Linked DNA regions of Homo sapiens. The protein of the gene in region 1 purifies or fractionates together with the protein of each later gene. This does not show direct contact. Each region holds a gene or a part of one and is shown on either strand. Other genes may lie near its edges.

Region 1 (7,107 bases):
CAACAAAACAGTGTATGGCACCCTCCTCCTGTTGCTTGTTAGATTCTAGAATTTTCAGTTGTCTGGTCTCCTCCAGAGGGGCTATTTCTTTTTCTTTTTTTCTTTTTTCTTTTTTTTTTTTTTTTATTTGAGACAAGGTCTCACTCTTGTCACCCAGGCTGGAGTGCAATGGCATGATCTCAGCTCACTGCAACCTCTGCCTCCCGGGTTCAAGCGATTCTCGTGCCTCAGCCTCCCGAGTAGCTGGGATTACAGGTGCACGCCACCACGCCCGGCAAATTTTTTTGTACTTTTTTGATAGAGATGGAGTTTCACCATGTTGGCCAGGCTGGTCTCAAACTCCTGACCTCAAGCGATCCGCCCGCCTCAGCCTCCCACAGTGCTAGGATTACAGGCATGAGCCACTATGCCCAGCAAGCTATTTCTGTTTATCACACTCAAGACCAAACTATAGGTGCTGGTGCTGCTAAAATCCTGCCCTCAGCAGGGACTGCCCCCTTGCCCCGTATCCAAATTCATGTTTAACTGATCTCTATTGAATATTTATTGTGTGCCCGGCACAGAGTTCTGTTTTACTGCCTCATGTTATTTAAGAGGGGACAACCCTAGAGGGTGGGACCTTTTCCTTTGCCCTGAAAATAAGTGGGGATTAAGATGTCTTTCAGGATTCCTGGTGTCTTTGCTAGTGCTGATCAAGTCACTCCTCAGCTTAACATTCTTCTTTCAGTGGTTCGTCTCTGGGATAAAATTCAGTATCCTTTATATGACAGACAAGACCTTTTGTGATCTACTTGTTTATTCTCATTTCCTGCCACTCCTCCTCTCTTGTTCTTTATGTCCTAGCAAGACTGAACTACCTATAGTTCTGGGAAAATTTTATACTCCTTTATGCCTTTTTGTCTTTGTACGTGCAAACTCCCACTAATGCCCTCTCCCCTTTGCAACTCACAGACTGTAAAAGGTGTAAAAGTCCTTCTTCCTCTTGGTTCCCATTGCACTTTGTGTGCGTCTTTATTAAAAAGTAATTATTTAATCATATCATAGTTATAAATATATCTGTGTCATTCGTTAGCCAGAGCTTCCTGAGGGCAGAGATGTCTTCTTTTCATTTTTGGTATCCCCAGAACCTAGTTCAGTGCTAAACATGTAATAGATGCTGAGTACATTTTTGAATGAGTTAATGAGTCTTCATGAAAAAAAGCTGTTGCCTGGGGCCCTTACTTTGGATTGTATGGGAAATGTGTAGGTTCAGACCTGTAAAATGGGCTCCTGCTAACTCCTCACTCTGGAAACAGGGAACAGGAATGAATGCTTCCTGACTGCTTATGTCTGCCGGACCCCATGACAGGGACTTGGGACAAATTATTTAGTCTATATGCAAGCCTGAAAGTTGGATATTTCTCTTTTAAATAATGTTCTTAATTTTTTCTTGCTCTTATAGTGAGACCTGCTTGTTGTAGAAAACACAGAAAAAGAATAAAGAAGGAAATATAACTCACCTAAGTCTACTACTGTCTGGCACAATCCACTGTTAAATTTGTTGTTGCATTAACTCCCATCTTTTGACTTAGAATATAAACATATTTTTACAAGATGGGATTGCGTTATAAATACCATTTTACAACCTATTTTTTATTTCTAGTTAATGTTACAATGTAATTGCCAGTTCATTAAATATTCAGCTAAACTTGATTTCTGATATCCCACAATATATATGTGTCACCGGTTAATTTGGTAATTTCCTTTATGGTTGGACATTGTACTTTTTTGAACATTATTTGTACTTTTTTATATTATAAATAATGTGAGGAAACTTTGGGCGTTCTGGAAAGGTTTTGCATCTTGATATGAGTGCTGATTAAAACAAAAACATTATGGAAAGCATCTTTGCCTAGTAGATACTTGACATTTATTTATAAGGAGCACCATTGAGGCCTTAAAGAATTCTAAACTTACAAATACAGAAATGGGCTTATGGGCCAGGCCCCTCTTTAATCACATTTCTGTGGTGAGTTGTGTGTTTCTGTGTACACTCTAACACAAGTTAACTGCCTTAATTTTTTTCCATGAAATACACCAAATTTTAAAAATCTCTTTTGCTTCTCTCTATGGGCCCCCACTGAACAAGGAAGCTAGCTGAGAATCAGGTCCTTGGGGGTGGCTGCTCTTGCTTACTCAGTGCATTGCTCACAGAAACACACCAGGCTTATAGTGCGCCATTTAAGTTTGTACTTCAGCACAATTGGAAATTACTACATACTGTGGACTTTTTATGGTTGCTTGCAAGAGTTAAGCCAACAAATTTTAAATCCACAGATACCTAGAGGTGATAGAAATCTGTTCATATCTCTAGTGACTTCTTTTTTTTTTTTTTTTTTTTGAGACAGAGTCTCACTCTGTTGCCCAAGCTGCAGTGCAGTGGCACGATCTTGGTTCACTGCAACCTCTGCCTCCTGGGTTCAAGTGATTCTCCTGCCTCAGCCTTCTGAGTAGTTGGGATTACAGGTGCGCGCCACCACACCCGGCTCATTTTTGTATTTTAGTAGAGACAGGGTTTCACTATGTTGGTCAGGCTGGTCTCGAACTGCTGACCTCGTGATCCACCCACCTTGACCTCCCAAAGTGCTGGTATTACAGGTGTGAGCCACCATGCCCGGCCTCTAGTGACTTTTGTAGGATAGATTTCTTGAAGTCCAGCTAGGGATTATGGAATATAATGCCAAGTTACTTTTTGGAAAGGTTATAACAAGCGAGGCAACTATTCCATTTTGCAGCTGAGAATCTGGAATTCGTGGAAGTTAAGTGACTTTCTGAGTGTGGATTTGAACTTTGAATTATTTGATTCCAGAGCCCAGGTTCTCAGAAGTGCAAAAAACATGGTATTGCTTCATTCTTCCTGTAAGAAGCTGGATTTTGCAAAAACACTTTGATTTGTACAGCGGTGGTTCTCAAACTTCAGCATGTATCAGACTCACTTGGAAGACCTGATGAAACACAAGTTAGGGATGCCCTAGCTACAGTATTTCTGATTCAGTAGGTAAGAAGGGCCCACCCTTGAGAACCACTGATTTAGAACATTATCCTGTCTTGATTCCTTCCCCTTCTGCGGAGTGTGATAGCTTCTGATACTGAGGGATGGATGGACTAACATATCATTACTGTACACCAGTCATTCTCTTTTTTTGGTACAGAAAAATTGGAATGAACATTCTTTTTATATTATTCTTTTTTAATTCCTAAGTGAGCTAACACAGGAGGAACGACCTTTTTTAAAGTACAGTTCATCAACTGGGAATTTGTTCAAAATGCAATTTCTTGGGCTAGGACTTGGACTCAGCAGTCTATATTTTAACAAACAAGTGATCCTGATTCACCCTAACATTTGAGAATCATTGCTGTACAATAGTGGAGAAAACTAGTTGGCAAGCATTTATTGATTTCTGGGATTTTTAGCACAAATTTCACTCTACAGTTTTCCTGTTTATAAAAGAAATATTGGTTGATACATGCCCAAGGGAATAACTTTGGTGTGGATTTTTAACTCTAGAGGAAAGGACACTGATTTCAGATCTGGGTTCAAATTCTGATTCTGTTACATATTAGCAAATAATTTCTTATCTGTGAAGCCTTAGTTTCCCTGAGAGGTTGTGATGATTTAAATAAAATGGTTATAGCTATCGTTTATTGAGCACAAGCTAGTGTTCCACTCACTATGCTAACCACTTCGCCTAATTATCTTTATCTTTTGGGGGAGTTTTAAAAATTATTCCATTTAGTAGTTATAGGACTATTCAAATTACCTATTTTATGTTGGATGTGTACTTTCCGAGAATTGACCCATTTCATCTAAGTTGTCAAATTTATGTTTGTAGAATTGTTCATAGTATTTCTTTATTATCCTTTTGATATCTTCAGGTGCTGTAGTGATAATTTTGTTTCATTAGTGATACTAAAAATGTATCAGGCTGGGCATGTGATGTCATTCATGCCTATAATCCCAGCACTTTGGGAGGCCAAGGCTGGTGGATTGCTTAAGCCCAAGAGTTCAAAACCAGCCTGGGCAACATGGTAAAACCCCGTCTCTACAAGAAATACAAAAATTAGCAGGGTGGGTGGCACATGCTTATAGTCCCAGCTGCCCGGGAGGCTGAGGTGGGAGGATTGCTTGAGCCCAGGAAGTTGAGGCCTCAGTGAACTGTGATCATGCCACTACACTCCAGCCTGGGTGACAGAGCGAGACCCTGTCTCAAAAAAACCGAAAACAAACAAACAAAAAAAATTTGTCTTCGTATTTGTCAGACTTGCTAGAGGTTTGTCAGTTTTATGGATCTTTTCAAAGAACAAGCTTTTTGTTTCATTGACTTTTTCTGTTGTCTTTCTGTTTTCAATTTAATAGATCTCTGCCTTTACTATTTTTTTCCTCCTTTGGTTTATTTTGCTCTCTATCTAGTTTCTTGAGGTGGGAGATTAGATTATTGATTTGAGACTTTCTTTTCTTTTTTTTTTTTTTTTTATTTTTTCTGAAACAGCCTGTTGCCCAGGCTGGAGTGCAATGGCGCGATCTCGGCTCGCTGCAACCTCCACCTCCCGGGTTCAAGTGATTTTCCTGCCTCAGCCTCCCTACTAGCTGGGATTATAGGCGCTCGCCACCACGCCCAGCTAATTTTTTGTATTTTTAATAGAGATGGGGTTTCACCATGTTGGCCAGGCTAGTCTCGAACTCCTGACCTCAGGTGATCCACCCGCCTCGGCCTCCCAAAGTGTTGGGATTACAGGCGTGACCCACAGCACCCGGCCTTTCTTTCTTTTCTAATGTAAGCCTTTAGCTGTTAAGTTTCTTCTCAGCACCAATAGATTTTAATATGTTACATTTTCCCTTTTCATGTAGTTCAAGGCATTAAAAAAAAAAAAAGTTTTTTTTTTTTTTTTTTTTTTTTTTTTTGAGACAGTGTCTCAGTCTGTTGCCCAGGCGGTACTGCAGAGGCAGGATCATAGCTCTCACTGCAGCCTCCAGCTCCTGGGCTAAAGTGATCCTCCTGCTGCCTCAAGGCATTTTTAAATTCCCCTTGAAACTTCCTGTTTGACCCATGAAGTATAGAAGTATGTTGTTTAATTTTGAAGTTTTTGTAGAGTTTCCTGTTATCGTTCTGTTACTGACTTCTAGTTTGATAGTGGTCAGAGAATATACTTTGTATGATTTCAATTCCTTTACATTTATTGAGATTTGTTTTATAGCCCAGAGTCTATCTTGGTAAATGTTTCATGATCACTCGAAAAGAATGTGTATTCTGCCATTTTTGGGTAGAGTGTTCTATAAATGTCAATTAACTACTGTTGGTTAATGGTGTTGCTGAATTCTTCTAATCCTTGCTGATTTTTTCTTTTTTCTTTTCTTTTTTTTTTTTTTTTTTGAGATGGAGTTTCGCTCTTGTTGCCCAGGCTGGAGCGCGATTTGGCTCACCGCAACCTCCGGCTCCCAGGTTCAAGCGATTCTTCTGCCTCAGCCTCCTGAATAGCTGGGACTACAGGCATGTGCCACCACGCCCAGCTAATTTTGTATTTTTAGTAGAGACGGGGTTTCTCCATGTTCGTCAGGCTGGTCTTGAACTTCTGACTTCAGGTGATCCGCCTGCCTCGGCCTCCCAAAGTGCTGGGATTACAGGTGTGAGCCACTGCACTCGGCCTACTCATTCATTCATTCATTTATTTTTGAGACAGGGTCTCTATGTCACCTGGGCTGGAGTGCAGTGGTTTGATCATGGTTTACTGCAGCCTCAAATTCCAGGGCTTAAGCAATCTCCTCATGCTTCAGCCTCTACAATAGCTGAAACTGCAAGCATGTGCCACTGTGTGCCCTAATTTTTAAAATTTTTTGTGTGGGGAGGGTGTGGGTGTAGGTTGGTGGTACCTCCCTTTGTTGCCTGGGATGGTCTTGGACTTCTGGCTTCAGATGATCCTCCCACCTCAGCCTCCCAAAGTGCTGGGATTACAGGCATGAACTACTGCTCTTGGCCCGAGTTATCTCTGTATTGCTTTTTTCAGTACTTGCTCTAGGTATTACATTATACATATAACTTACCATAAGCAACTGCTCTTGACATTTTACCAGTTTGATTGAAGAGTAGAAACTTTACTTTTCTTTTTCCTTTTTTTTTTTGAGACAGAGTCTCACTCTGTCACCCAGGCTGGAGTGCAATGATGTGGTCTCGGCTCACTGCAACCTCTGCCTCCTGGGTTCAAGCGATTCTCCCACCTTAGCCTCCCGAGTAGCTGGGACTACAGGTGTGGTCCACCATAGCCGGCTAATTTTTGTATTTTTAGTAGAGACGAGTTTTCACTATGTTGACCAGGTTGGTCTCGAACTCCTGACCTCATGATCTGCCCGCCTCAGCCTCCCAAAGTGCTGGGATTACAAGCGTGAGCCACCATGTCCGGTTGAAACTTTACTTTTCTTTATATGCCTTAATGCTCTTTTGTTTATAATCTAATTAATCGTTTTGTTGTTGTTGAGACAGAGTCTTGCTGTGTTGCCCAGGCTGGAGTGTAGTGGAACAGTCACGGCTCACCTGCAGCCTAAACCTCCTGGGCTCAAGTGATCCTCCCACCTCAGCCCCCCACCCCCCAGTAGCTGGGACTACAGGCATGCACCACTATGCCTGGCTGATTTTTTTTTTTTTTTTTTTTTTTTTTGAGACGAAGTCTCGCTCTGTCGCCCAGGCTGGAGTGCAGTGGCGTGATCTCGGCTCACTGCAACCTCCGCCCCTCCAGGTTTAAACAATTCTCTGCCTCAGCCTCCAGAGTAGCTGGAATTACAGGCGCCCGCCACCACGCCCAGCTAATTTTTTGTATTTTTAGTAGAAACGGGGTTTCACCATCTTGGCCAGGCTGGTCTTGAACTCCTGACCTCAAATGATCCACACGTCTCGGCCTCCCAAAGTGCTGGGATTACAGGCATGAGCTACTGTGCCCAGCCTACTCATTCTTTTAGGATAAGTGTTGGCAACAGATACGTTTAGTTTTCCTTAATCTGAGAATATCTTGATTTCCCTTGAATTCTTAGGGGATCTTTTCACTTCATATCGAACTCTGGGTTTCTAGTTCTTTTAT
Region 2 (7,107 bases), on another chromosome or scaffold:
TCTAGGATGGGGCGTCAGGCTCTGGAGTTTTAATCCATTGCTTTTTGCCCTGTATTTTACACTTAGAATTTTGTTAATGGGTCTTGGTTATCCCAGTGACATTGTTGTTGAGGTGCATCCAGTGCTCAGGCAGGTCACAGCAACAATGGCGTGTGTGCGTGCATGCGTGTGTGTGTGTGATGTTCCCCAGCCCCATGAACAGCACAGTGGAATATCATCTCAGCCACTGATTGTCAGCTCAGTGCTGGCCTCTAGAAGCTAAGCCTTATGGAATCCTGCATGTGGATCCTCTTAGATGATTTCTCTTACCTGAGTACCCCTGGTGGACCTGGCTTAGCAATGGTTTGTATGATAGCTCAGAAAACAAGCATTAAGTCCATCAGCACATTATACAAATTCAATAGGCAGAGAGTCACTTGCTACTCTCAAAGGATCGGCTTCTGAAATGCAGAAGGTGGAAGTTCTCATGTGACCCCATCCTTGCTCTGTAGAATGCCACCCAGAGGATGTTTGAAATTGACTATAGCCGGGACTCCTTCCTCAAGGATGGCCAGCCATTTCGCTACATCTCAGGAAGCATTCACTACTCCCGTGTGCCCCGCTTCTACTGGAAGGACCGGCTGCTGAAGATGAAGATGGCTGGGCTGAACGCCATCCAGACGTAAGTAGGAGGGCATGTGGCTCTCACCTAGGCCTGAACACCCACTCTGGAGAGAAGATACAACTGTATTTCTCAGGGTGGCTATTTTATTGCTCAGAAATGGGAAATGGTCCAGTGTGATGTTCTGGGAGGGGCTTGTCATGAGCCGGACTGGCCCTTTTTCAAATAATTAACTACTTCTTCCAATCTTCAATTTTAATCATCAGAAATCATTAAATAAATAGCTTAAAAAGGAAAAGGATGGGGGAAGCAAACAGAAGTAACAATGATTGAGCACTTACCAGATACAGGGCACTTTATACTAATGATTCCATTTCCTCGAGATAGGTATTATTGTTCCTGTTTATAGCTGGTGAAACTGAAATTTGCCCAAGGCCATATCTTTGGTCAGAGGTTCAGCTAGTATTTGAAGGGAAGGGAAGGCATGCAGGCAGCTGTAGCACAGGTATGGCTGTAGTCATACAAAAAGCTAGGTTAACAGGAGAAAAGCATAACAGATATGTAAGTTTTATCTGACATGAGAGTCTTCAGAAAAGAAGACCCAAGGAAAACTTTTTACACTTAGATTCCATGAAAGGTTCTGACCTAATGGTGGTGGACTGAAGTGGGAAACCCTCAAGGCCTGCCTCAACAGATTCTTCTTGGCCTTTCTGGGTGGCATTCCTTCCTTCTGGGTATGGAGCAGGACCCCTCTGCAATGAGGGTCTAGAAGGGAGAAGGGAGAGGTGACCTTTCTAGGTTTTCTGGCTTGCTTTGGGAGAGAGGGGTTCTAATTTCTATGACCCACACTGGGGGAAGATGAATTCTGGTTTGACTTGCTTCAGGGGAGAAGGAGGGGTGGGCAACAGAAGAGCAGGAGAAGGCCAGAGAAAGAAGATTTGCTTCTAAGGCCTTCCGATCTCCTTTAGTTCAAAGTACTTAGCATGCCAAGGTGCCATACTTTGGGGTATTGTTTTCTGAGCCCCAATAACAGAATAAGCCTTGTGCTTAGGTAGATTTCTGAAACCCAGTTTGGCTTTGTGGTTCTGCTGCGGTAATTGTATAACTTCAGGGTGTAGAATTATCCCAATAGCTATCTCTCTGCATCTCTTTTGCTATTGCAAAGTAACTAACTAACAGGCAAGAAAGTTGGTGTGGCTGGCTGCTCTGGCTCTTGCAGTGCTGATGTGGATTGCTGATAACTTCTCAAAGATGAAGAGTGAGAAAACCCAGAGGCAGATTCCGAAGATAGATACTTAGGGAGAATGCGCTCATTATTCTGGTTCTAAGGCCACTGGCAGAGTGAACCCAAGTTCACCTGTTTATAATTCCGACAGTGAGTTCTGGAAGACCAAGACTGTTCCAGGGAACCCTGAAATCATGGGATCACACACACGCAAAATGACACAACCCAGGGTCTTCAAAGAGAGCTTTGTGATGGTAATGGATGGCTCCATATTTAACTTTGTATCCCATGCTGTCTGTAGGTAGACAGAGGAGCTGGTAGAAGGTTTTGTCATTTTACCTCCTGCCACATGATTCCTGACAAAATCTTTTGTCAGAGGATCTAGGGCTTGGAGTTTTTCCTACACGTACTAAAAATTATTTCTTCAAAAAATAAATATGTCTCTTACTACTTTTCAGCAAAATATTCTTATTTTTCCTAAGCCTCACATGGACATATATAATTTTTATTTTTATTTATTAAAACAATTTTTTAGAGCTGGGGTCTTGCTCTGTCACCTGGCTGGAATGTAGTGGCTCAATCATAGTTCACTGAAACCTTAAAGTGGGCTCAGGTGATCCTCCCACCTCAGCCTCCTGAGTAGTTGGGATTACAGGCACTGCTACCACACCAGCTAATTTTTTTGTTTTGCTTTGTTTTTAGAGATGAGGTCTCACTATGTTTCCCATGGTGGTCTTCAACTCCTGGACTCAAGCGATCCTACTGCTTTGGCCTCCCAGAGTGCAGGGATTACAGAAGAGAGCTACTGTGCCCAGCTATAATTTTTATGTAATAGGAATTAGTGCTGATATAACTCTGGAGTTTTCTGTTGTTGTTGTTGATTTTAAGAAGTGTCCCCATGAAGTCTGACTAGCTTGGGGAGCTGCTGTAAAAATTCATAACAAGGCCCCTCCCAAGAGGCTGCCAAGCGGGAAGGTCTATGTGTCCTGTGGTTTATGGTTCTACACCATATCTTTCTCTATAGACAGTTTAGAAATTTATGTAGGATACTGGATTTTTGAGCTCTTTCCCCTTCCACAGAGCACCTCAATTCAATTATTTATGCAAAATATAATTACAAAAAGCTAAAAACCTGACTTACAAACAAGTATATAATGGACATATGTCAGAAATTTATTTAACTGGATAAAGAAAATGTGGTACATATACACCATGGAATACTACAAAAATCACAAAAAAGAATGAGATCATGTCCTTTACAGCAAACTGGATGCAGCTGGAGGCTATTATCCTGAGCAAACACAGGGACAGAAAACCAAATACCACATGTTCTCACTTATAAGTGGTAGCTAAACATCGAGTACATATGGACACAAAGAAGGGAACAACAGACAATGGGGCCTACTTGAGGGTGGAGGGTGGGAGGAGGGTGAGTTCCCCTATCGTGTACTAGGCAGATTATCTGGGTGACTAAATAATCTGTACACCAAACCCCCATGACACGCAATTTACCTGTATAACAAACCTGCACATGTACCCCTGAACCTAAAATAAAAGTTTTTAAAAATTTATTTAACTTATTACTGAGGAAACTAGCTAGATGGTAAAGCTAATTCAAAGGAGAATTTGAGGAAGGGAGGTTTACGGTCAGTCAAGAAAGTCATGTTCAAATAAAGTTATCTTTAGAGATAAAACTGGTTAGTATCATAAAGGGCAATGAATGAAAAAGCAACCTTTAGAGTTGTCTTCTCTGTATGACAATCATTTGTTTCTCTCTCAGGCAATAATCTACAAATTAATCTGTAACTTCAAAGTTCTTCCCTTAATCAATAGTAAATAGTAAGTCAAACAAAATATCTCCCCTGGAGAATGAAGGAAGCCTCAGTGGGCCCATTGGACAGTCCTCCATTATAACATGGAAAGGAAATGCAGTCACCCTTTTGCCTTATATCCAAATTCTGGATAATTTTTCTTTTCTTTTCTTTCTTTATTTTGACACAGGGTCTCACTCTGTCATCCAGTTTGGAGTGCAGTGGCACAATCACAGCTCACTGCAGCTTCAACCTCCCTAGCTTAAGCAAACCTCCACCTCAAGCCTCCAGGGTAACTGGGACCACAGGCATACACCCTGGCTAATTTTTTTGTGTTTTTTGTAGAGACGGGGTTTCACCATGTTTTCCAGGCTGGTGTCAAACTCCTGGGCTCAAGCCATCCACCCACCGTGACTTCCCAGAGTGCTGGGATTAGAGGCCTGAGCCACTGTGCCCAGCCTTGGATAATTTTTCTTTCAAAGCGCCTTCTCCCTCTTATCCATGTGTTAGCAATAGTCCTAATGAGGCCCTTTCCCCACGCTTCTTTCTTCTTGACTCTGCCAAGTATCCAGGAAGGGGCTGTGTGTGTCTTGGCAGGTATGTGCCCTGGAACTTTCATGAGCCCTGGCCAGGACAGTACCAGTTTTCTGAGGACCATGATGTGGAATATTTTCTTCGGCTGGCTCATGAGCTGGGACTGCTGGTTATCCTGAGGCCCGGGCCCTACATCTGTGCAGAGTGGGAAATGGTGAGTGTGGCTAGACTGGGCTCTACCTGGTGTGTGTGAGCTGGCAGGCAGCAGCTCTGGGGCAAAGGGAATTAAAGCAGACCTGCATTCCAGAGAGCATGGGGCCTGGGACTGTACCCAGCACAGGTGTCTTTTACCTTGACAAGGTGCCCAGGCAGAGAAACAGGCCAGGGTCAGGGCATGGGCTCTCCTCTTGGTGGTCACTCACATACCTCAGCTTGCTCATCTGTAAGAAGCAGTTAATGGTGTCTTCTCTATCTACGTCACAGGGTATTTGTGAAATTAAATTGAAAAATCTTTATGAAAAGGGCTTTGGTCCTTAAAACATTGCATTCATGCAGAGTGATCTTAATTGTCCTACATTCCAATTTCTAATTTCTCTGCAAGTTATAAACCAAAAAGCCCAGCTCAAATACCCCTTGTCCCTTGAAGCTTTTATTCTTTTCCATAACTACTAATAGTAATTTCTATCTCCTCTGAGCACCCTTCACGGAACAGACATTATAATGGCTTGTTTTCCCTGAACTAGGGAGGATTACCTGCTTGGCTGCTAGAGAAAGAGTCTATTCTTCTCCGCTCCTCCGACCCAGGTAGGTTGTTACAGATGTCTTGAGAAGATTTATAAAAGCTTCAGCCTAGGTGCGGTGGCTCACGCCTGTAATCCTGACACTTTGGGAGGCTGAGGCGGGTGGATTACCTGAGGTTGGGAGTTCGAGACCAGGCTGGCCAAAATGGCAAAACCTCGCCCCTACTAAAAATACAAAAAATTAGCTGGGCATGGTGGTGGGCGCCTGTAATCCCAGCTACTCAGGAGGCTGAGGCAGAAGGATTGCTTGAACCCTGGAGGCGGAAGTTGCAGTGAACCGAGATCGTATCAATGCACTATAGCCTGGGTGACAAAGCGTGACTCTGTCTCAAAACAAACAAACAAACAAAAAAGCTTCAACAATTTATATCAAAAGGGGGAGGTATTTTGAAGGCTGGGGTACCTCTGCACAAATACTTTTGAAAGTTTAGTGAAAGTCTGAGTGTTTATCACTGACCAGTGCATAGCAACAAACTAAACCTCTAGGAAATTAGGCTTTGAACTACGTAACCAGATCTTACTGATAAACTGGTAATTCTTTGAATTGGTATTGAACCCTGTTTGCGGTTGACCAACTGACTTCAGTGCTTTCTCTTCCTATTTACTTAGCATATTCCACAGCCAATGATAGCACCTCGCTAATCAAAATGACAAGTCAGGCATGGTGACTCACACTTGTAATCTCAGCACTTTGGGAGGCCAAAGTGGAGGGATTGCTTGAGCCCAGGAGTTTGATACCAGCCTAGGTAACATAGCGAGACCCTATCTCTATAAAAATTAGCCAGGTGTGCTGGCACATGCCTGTAGTCCGGGAGGCTGAGGTGGGAGGATTGCTTGAGCCTGGGAGGTTGAGACTGCAGTGAGCCATGATTGTACCACTGCACTCCATCCTGGGCAACAGAGAGGGACTTTGTCTCAAAAAAAGAAATAAGGTCGGGCGTAGTGGCTCATGCCTGTAATCCCAGCACTTTGGGAGGCCGAGGTGGGTGGATCACCTGAGGTCAGGAGTTCGAGACCAGCCTGACCAACATGAGGAAACCCTGTCTCTACTAAAAAATACAAAATTAGCTGGGTGTGGTGGTGCATGCCTGTAATCCCAGCTACTCGGGAGGCTGAGGCAGGAGAATTGCTTGAAGCTGGGAGGCAGAGGTTGCAGTGAGCCCAGATTGCGCCATTGCATTCCTGCCTGGGCAACAAGAGCGAAACTCTGTCTCAAAAAAAAAAAAAAAAAGAAATAAAAACAAAATGACAGTTTCTGGGATGGTGTCATTGGATTGCTTGGTAGCTGCAATGCCTTCTATATTCTGGCCACTTTTATAGAGCAATGTGTAAATGATAGTTTTTTTCTTTGTCTTACTCCAGTACCTTCATGTTTTGCACGCTTAGCATATTATTGGTGTTTTCACTGTGGTAACTCATTTAATCTTTATGCCAACTTTATGTGGCATGTACATTTATTATTCCTATTTGACAATATAAATATAGAATTTATTAGAACTTCATTTTATACGGAAAAAAAGCCTTCCTGTGACTGAGAAGAGGATACACTGTTCAGTCACTCTTTTCTTCATTCAGCAAACATTGCTTGGATATGTTCTATGCTCCAGGCTTTGTGTCCTGTGGCAAGGATGGTCTTAGTCTGTTTTCTGTTGCTTGTAACAGAATACCTGAAACTGAGTAATTTATAAAGAAAAGCATTTATTTCCTACAGTTATGGAGGCCAAGAAGTTCAAGGTGGAGGGGCTATATCTGGTGAGGGCCTTCTTGCTGGTGGGGACTCTGCAGAGTCCTGAGGGGGCACAGGGCATCACATGGTGAGGGGGCTGAGTGTCCTAGCTCAGATCTCTCTCCCTCTTCTTATAAAGCCACCAGTCCCATTCCCATGATGACCCATGAATCCATTAACCTATTAATCTATTAATCCATGAGTGGATTGATCTACTTATGAGGGCTGAGCCCTCATGACTCAACACCTCTTAAAGGCCCCACCTCTCAATACTACCACATTGGGGATTCGATTTCAACATGAGTTTCAGAGGGACAAACATTCCAACCATAGCAGATGGATACAGGCACACTGGTCCTCGTCCCCTGAGGAGCTCAGCTGAGGAGACAACTACATGCAGGACAACTTTT
Region 3 (7,107 bases), on another chromosome or scaffold:
TTGCTGTGGAGCCTGAGACCCCCCTGCTAGGAGAGGGGGTTGAGATTTGAGCCTTTGACTCAACTCCTGCTGACCCAATATGAACCAGCCATGGAGGTCTGTGGTCGGCCTCCCCTAGAAGGAGTCAGAAGTGGTCTGGGGCCATATGTAGGGAGGAGGTGTGTAAAATCAGGGTTCTCGGGCAAGAAAAGATCTTACACTCTGGGGGTGAGACAGCTTCCCCTCTTTTCTTCCTCTTCCCACTTTGTCCTTTTCCAAGTAAGAGATAGAGTCACCCCATCTCCACTCCTGCCAAGTTCACTTCACTGCCCTTTACTGGCCTATTGCCTTTGCCCTGCACTGGGCCCAGGGAACCTCCCACTGTCCTCAGTGGGCGGGGCTACAGGTAGAATGTATTTTGAGGGTCCCAGGAGTTCATAATTGCAGGCCTTGCCTCAACACAGAGCCTGGTGTTTTGCAGAACACTTGCAGAGCCATTATCTCTGTGAGCCTTATGGCAGTTGTGGCTAGGCAGGGAAGGGACCACTTATCGCCCCACTTGTAGATGAGGACCCAAAGCCTCCCAGAGGTAGGTAGAGACATGCCCGGAAGCAGGAACAGAATCAGATCCATGTTCTCCAAATTCTAGCCCCCTTTCTCCCAAACTTATTCTGGACAGTTTGTCCTGTCCCTGATGATAGGCTTGGATCAGGGGTTGCAGGTCTAGGGGCCTGCGAACCAGCCCCCTGAGCAGCTGGGCAGCGGGGAAGCCTCAGTGACTGGCCCCTACCTAGACTGGGCCATTTCCCCAGCTGCCAGCCAGCTCCTACCCCAGCAAAGGCCCTGTCTCTCCTGAGGGATGCCATAATCAGGGCCCAGAGGACAGTGGTGAGCAACAAGGCCACTGCCAGAAGAGGCCAACCTGGGGCTGTGGGTGTGATGAAGAGCGCTGTTCCCCTCCTTTTTCTCCCCTCTTACTCTTTGGCCAGCCAGGCCCTGCCCACTCACTGTCCCCTAGGGCAGTGGATTTTAAGGAGGCTTGGCTCCTCCCTGTCGGCCTGCCCTGCCCAAGTCAGCCTACCCTGCTACTCCCCCTTAGGAGCCTCACATCTGGCTGGGTCTTCCCTGGCACTGTAGAGGTGGAGGCCCTCTTCAGTTCTGGAGTTCGTCTTATCTCCCAACTCTGATGCTCCTTCCCTTGGTTTCTGGGCTCCCTTGAACTCCCCTAGCTCCGTGCTCACGGCCATCTCAGGGTCTCCCCTGCTTGCAGCTGCACTTGGTACAGCCTGTGCCAGCCCCTGAGGGACCGGCTGCAGCTTCACTGGCAAACAGGCGGGCAAGGGGCACAGGGCTGCTGGCCGGAGCTGCCTGCACTCTGCAGGTAGGGTTCAGGCAGGGGCCGGGGTGCGCAGGGGACGGGGTCCTGGATCTGGGGCAGGCCCCTCCCTCTTCCCTTTGTCCAGCTTTGGGACCAGTCCTGGAGTATTGGGAAATGGGCGCAGAGACTTTAAGGCCGGCTACCTAGGCAGATCCTGTAATCCTTCCCTAAGCCAGGGTGGAGGGTGCTGGAGGGGAGCACTCCTTACAGCCGGCTGAGAGAGGCAGTTTGGGTGTGGAAAGCTTCTCACTGAGGAGCTGGGGCTGCTGAGCCCAGGGAGGGTCCTTCGGGGTAGGCTGGAAGCCTTGGCAGCCCCCATAGACCAGCAGCTTCACGGCCCTCTGGTGCCAGCCTCCTCGTGGTACAGATGGAAAGTCTAGTCTTGATGAAGAAAGACCCCTGGCTTCTGACACTCCCTTCCCCAGGGCCCTCTGTGGTGCCCCCGGTCCAGATCCTGGGGCCTGAGTGGCATAGACTGTTTGTGGCAGCTCCTTTTGGAGGGGCAGGCTAAGGCCAGGCCACATTTTGGCAGCCCTGGGGCCCTGGGGGACAGGGCGGGCCTCCAGGGAGGAGGTAGGGTTCCCTTGCCAACCAGGCCCTCCACTTCCTCTCCTCTTCCCTTGAGGGCTCGTCCCTAGGTCAGAGCTGAGCAGCAGCTGCGGCTTCTCTTGTGCTGCACAGGTCTAGGATGTCAGGCACAGGGCCCTGCCCCTTTGAGTGGAGAATCTGCTAGTCCAGGGGCGGGTCTGATCCTGGGTTGCCTGCCCTGGGAGCTGCAGGCTGGGGGTCCCTGGTGTGGCCGCCTGGTCCTTACCAAGCACCTGGTGTGTGTCTCTGAGGGTGTCTGTGTGCGTACGTGCATGTGTGTGCACACGTACACACGTGCACCTGCCTCTGGGAGGTAGTCACGTGGAGATTCTCATGGCCTGAGGGATCAGGCTCTAGTCTCATTTGTGGAGGTAATGAATCTACTTGTTCTAGGGGCAGACTCAGAATCCCCACCCCAAGCCTGGAATGGGTGAGGGGTCCCTGCGTTAGAGGTGAGGGTGAGCCCTTTGGGAGCCACACACACAGGCCTACTCCTCAGCTACTGAGGAGGGACTGCCCTCTTTCCCGACCCTGGGCTCTCTCGGGAGCTGGCCTAGGCAGGGCAGGGGCCCAGGGCTTTCAGGGGCTGCCCCTCCACCCTTTGACCCTGGCATCACTGTCTCTGCAGAGGCTCGGGGTGGTCTGGGGGCCCCTCCGCTGCAGTCTGCCCGATCCCTGCCGGGCCCCGCCCCCTGCCTCAAGCACTTCCCGCTCGACCTGCGCACGTCTATGGATGGCAAATGCAAGGAGATCGCCGAGGTATCACCTGGCACCACCCGCACCCTCACCCCGTGTCTCCATGCCCTGCCTCTGCTCCCCACACCCCTCACCTCAAGCTGTCCCCTCACCTCACGCTTGGCTGTCTCCTGATCCTCAGCCTCTCCCAGGTACCCCTGGTCCTGCTGCCCTCACCCCATCCCCAGACTCTGTAGGAGAGTGCCCGAGGGCGGAGGGCCAGCCATGCTGACCTTCCTTCCCTCCCCCCAGGAGCTGTTCACCCGCTCACTGGCTGAGAGCGAGCTCCGTAGTGCCCCGTATGAGTTCCCCGAGGAGAGCCCCATTGAACAGCTGGAGGAGCGGCGGCAGCGGCTGGAGCGGCAGATCAGCCAGGATGTCAAGTGAGCCCGGCAGGCAGCTGCTTAGTCTCCCTCCATACCCTTCCAGACCCTTTCAGAGCCCCTTTTCTGCCTCTTTCCCTCGCACCCTGCCTTGGGGGGTCTGCACAGGGAGCATAGAGTGGGCTTTGGAGTCGGGCTGCTGGGTTCTGTTCTGTCTTCTAGCCGCCGGTGTGGCTGGGTCATGTTGCTTAACTTATGGGTCTGCTTTCTCATCTCTAAAGTGAGTGAGAACAGCACAGGGTTCTGCAGCTCTGCCTTTGAGGATCACATGTGACAACATGTGCACAGCACCTAGTGCGGTGCTGGGACCTGGGAGCAAGGGCCGTCCCTCGGGATCTGCCTGACTTCTCACCCCTCTTGCCTCTAGGCTGGAGCCAGACATCCTGCTTCGGGCCAAGCAAGATTTCCTGAAGACGGACAGTGACTCGGACCTACAGTGAGGAGGGCAGAGGGGCACAGGGGATGCGGAGCTGCAGCCTGCCCTTCTGCCGGCTCTAAACCCCTCCCTTGAATGCACCCCCTGCAGGCTCTACAAGGAACAGGGTGAGGGGCAGGGTGACCGGAGCCTGCGGGAGCGTGATGTGCTGGAACGGGAGTTTCAGCGGGTCACCATCTCTGGGGAGGAGAAGTGTGGGGTAAGTATGGGGTGTATGTTGGGTGAGTCGCCATCACCTATGTCTTAGTGGGTTCCCCCAGCCTGGAGAGCTGGGGGTGGGGGCTGGAAAGGGCGTTTCTCTTTCCAGCAGCTGGAGGGGCGGAGGGGCAGAGGGGCTGCCTAGGAGCCACTTGATGTGCTGGACCAGGGTGATCTGAGTGTTCCTGGGGGTCAGGGCCTGTGGGAGGTGGGGATAGTTTGGGTTCTAAGATAAGGCCTTAGGGAGGAGGTCTCTGAGTCCAAGACTGAGGAGAGTGATCGCATATCCTCATCTCCAGGTGCCGTTCACAGACCTGCTGGATGCAGCCAAGAGTGTGGTGCGGGCGCTCTTCATCCGGGAGAAGTACATGGCCCTGTCCCTGCAGAGCTTCTGCCCCACCACCCGCCGCTACCTGCAGCAGCTGGCTGAAAAGCCTCTGGAGACCCGGACCTATGAACAGGGCCCCGACACCCCTGTGTCTGCTGGTGGGACTCCCCATCTCTGCCCCATGCCATGTGCCCTAGCCTCCTGGGCTTCTCAGCCTGGTGCCTGGGCACCTCTGCCCTGCCTGCCTCTCCCTACAACCCAGGCTCATTCCAACCTCTTGGGGTACAGGGGTGGAGGTTGGGCAGGAGCTGTCTGACCTACTGGGTCTTCAACATCTCTTGCCCTCTGTGGGGCCTTTGGGTTGGGCAGTGGGTGGCTTGGAAGAGCCCTGCTCTGACTTTACCCTCCTCACCCCTGCAGATGCCCCGGTGCACCCCCCTGCGCTGGAGCAGCACCCGTATGAGCACTGTGAGCCAAGCACCATGCCTGGGGACCTGGGCTTGGGTCTGCGCATGGTGCGGGGTGTGGTGCACGTCTACACCCGCAGGGAACCCGACGAGCAGTAAGAGGGGTGTGGTGCATGTTGGGGGGATGCAGCGTGGGAGGTTGCGTTGGCTTGGGAGAGGCCACAGGGCTCGGCTTGCTCTCCTCACCCAAGCTCCCCTCCATGCCAGTTGCTCAGAGGTGGAGCTGCCATACCCTGACCTGCAGGAATTTGTGGCTGACGTCAATGTGCTGATGGCCCTGATTATCAATGGCCCCATGTGAGTCCCCTGCCATCCCAGACACTTAGCTCCCCTCCCAGCCCAGATTCTCCAGCCCCAGTTCTGCCCCAGACTCCCATCACCTGGTGTCTTGCCCTTCCTAGTTGCTGAGCCCTCGACTTCCCCGCAGTCTACTTCCCTCTTGGCAGCCTCCATCCTTACCCTCCCACCTGCTCCCTCTGATCTGCTACCCAAGCCCTCCCCAGGTGCCTCCCTTCAGGGCCTAAGTCCCTGCCTTGTTCTCCTCATGCCCAGAAAGTCATTCTGCTACCGCCGGCTGCAGTACCTGAGCTCCAAGTTCCAGATGCATGTGCTACTCAATGAGATGAAGGAGCTGGCCGCCCAGAAGAAAGTGCCACACCGAGATTTCTACAACATCCGCAAGGTGGGCCCTCACCCCGTGGCCGTCTCCATGTCCTCATCCCACACCTCTGCCCAGCCTCCCCTTCAAGGGCCAGGCCCCCCACACAGCATCCAGTACAGAGGGTCCTTTCCCATTGCACTGCCCCAGGCCCCAGACCTTCCTGGCCTCTGGTGGATCAGCAGTGCCCTGTTCCATTCCAGGTGGACACCCACATCCATGCCTCGTCCTGCATGAACCAGAAGCATCTGCTGCGCTTCATCAAGCGGGCAATGAAGCGGCACCTGGAGGAGATCGTGCACGTGGAGCAGGGCCGTGAACAGACGCTGCGGGAGGTCTTTGAGAGCATGAATCTCACGGCCTACGACCTGAGTGTGGACACGCTGGATGTGCATGCGGTCTGTGCCAGTGGCGTGGGCTGTGGGACTGAGTCAGTCAGGGGACCAGGAGTCACGGGTGACCTGAGCCTTCCCATGTCCCCCAGGACAGGAACACTTTCCATCGCTTTGACAAGTTTAATGCCAAATACAACCCTATTGGGGAGTCCGTCCTCCGAGAGATCTTCATCAAGACGGACAACAGGGTATCTGGGAAGTACTTTGCTCACATCATCAAGGTAAGGAGGCAGCCTTCCCTGCCAAGCCTCGAGCCTGAGGATCTGGGGGCTTTTAGGGGGTGAGACTCAAGGAGGGTAGGCAGATGACCCCCTGAAGAGCTCTGACTCAGCTCACCTCATGTCTGACTCAGCTCACCTCATGTCTAGGAGGTGATGTCAGACCTGGAGGAGAGCAAATACCAGAATGCAGAGCTGCGGCTCTCCATTTACGGGCGCTCGAGGGATGAGTGGGACAAGCTGGCGCGCTGGGCCGTCATGCACCGCGTGCACTCCCCCAACGTGCGCTGGCTGGTGCAGGTGCCCCGCCTCTTGTGAGTGTCCCTGGAGTGGGAGGGGAACCTGCGGGGTCATATTCAAGGGGTCAGGGCCTGCCTCCTGCCCTCCTAGGATGGCTGAGCCTCCCTTGTCCCTGCCAACCCCTCTGAGTGCAAGGAAGGGCTTCCTGGTCCCATCCATGGTCTGTCCAGCCTGGCCCACCTGGGTATCCTTGCTTTCCCAATATGGTTCAGATGCGCCCCTGCGCTCTTGGGCCAAGCTCTGACCCTTGCTGGACCGCTGGGTTTCCTCCCACTGGCCCTGACTTGCACATACCTGCATGTTGTCTCACCTGCAGTGATGTGTACCGTACCAAGGGCCAGCTGGCCAACTTCCAGGAGATGCTGGAGAACATCTTCCTGCCACTGTTCGAGGCCACTGTGCACCCTGCCAGCCACCCGGAACTGCATCTCTTCTTAGAGCACGTGAGCAGGCAGCGCAGAGCTGGGTATGGGGAGGGCAGCCGGCTTCGCATCCAGCTGCAGCTCTGGTTCTGACCCCAGGGTTCTGTATTAGGTGGATGGTTTTGACAGCGTGGATGATGAGTCCAAGCCTGAAAACCATGTCTTCAACCTGGAGAGCCCCCTGCCTGAGGCGTGGGTGGAGGAGGACAACCCACCCTATGCCTACTACCTGTACTACACCTTTGCCAACATGGCCATGTTGAACCACCTGCGCAGGTGCCTGCACCACCCTGTGTCTGCTTGCTATGCCATCTCTCGCCCAACAAACCTCACTCTTGGCACCTTGGGCCAGGGCCACTAGACCTCTGACCCACCTGTTGCCTGGACTGGATGGGTTCTTTCTCTGCCCTTGGAGCTACATCTGTCACCCCTCACAGCCAGTAATCTACCCCTGTCCCCCTTATCCCAGGCCTGCATAGTTATTGGCTGGAGGACATATGCGTGCTGGGTGGGGGTCAGGGGCTCCGGTGAGCCCAGGTGATCCCAGGCTCAGGAGCTGACACTGTCTTCATGTCCCCCAGGCAGAGGGGCTTCCACACGTTTGTGCTGAGGCCACACTGTG

What was found.
Region 2: the proteins of PHF8 (region 1) and GLB1 purify together in Homo sapiens (co-immunoprecipitation; 2 studies listed by BioGRID and IntAct, with this or other methods). This does not show direct contact.
Region 3: the proteins of PHF8 (region 1) and AMPD2 purify together in Homo sapiens (co-immunoprecipitation; 2 studies listed by BioGRID and IntAct, with this or other methods). This does not show direct contact.

Annotation. Positions count from the first base shown.
Region 1 is NC_000023.11:54,034,407-54,041,513, reverse strand, and holds part of PHF8 (histone lysine demethylase PHF8), read left to right. Parts: intron 1-7,107. UniProt on the Homo sapiens protein: Histone lysine demethylase with selectivity for the di- and monomethyl states that plays a key role cell cycle progression, rDNA transcription and brain development.
Region 2 is NC_000003.12:33,066,098-33,073,204, reverse strand, and holds part of GLB1 (beta-galactosidase isoform a preproprotein), read left to right. Parts: intron 1-491; coding exon 492-661; intron 662-4,234; coding exon 4,235-4,385; intron 4,386-4,914; coding exon 4,915-4,975; intron 4,976-7,107.
Region 3 is NC_000001.11:109,622,730-109,629,836, forward strand, and holds part of AMPD2 (AMP deaminase 2), read left to right. Parts: intron 1-1,299; exon of another isoform or gene 1,300-1,360; intron 1,361-2,573; coding exon 2,574-2,704; intron 2,705-2,932; coding exon 2,933-3,063; intron 3,064-3,430; coding exon 3,431-3,499; intron 3,500-3,589; coding exon 3,590-3,698; intron 3,699-3,996; coding exon 3,997-4,183; intron 4,184-4,445; coding exon 4,446-4,587; intron 4,588-4,699; coding exon 4,700-4,789; intron 4,790-5,044; coding exon 5,045-5,174; intron 5,175-5,353; coding exon 5,354-5,548; intron 5,549-5,634; coding exon 5,635-5,766; intron 5,767-5,913; coding exon 5,914-6,077; intron 6,078-6,379; coding exon 6,380-6,506; intron 6,507-6,597; coding exon 6,598-6,761; intron 6,762-7,066; coding exon 7,067-7,107. UniProt on the Homo sapiens protein: AMP deaminase plays a critical role in energy metabolism. Catalyzes the deamination of AMP to IMP and plays an important role in the purine nucleotide cycle.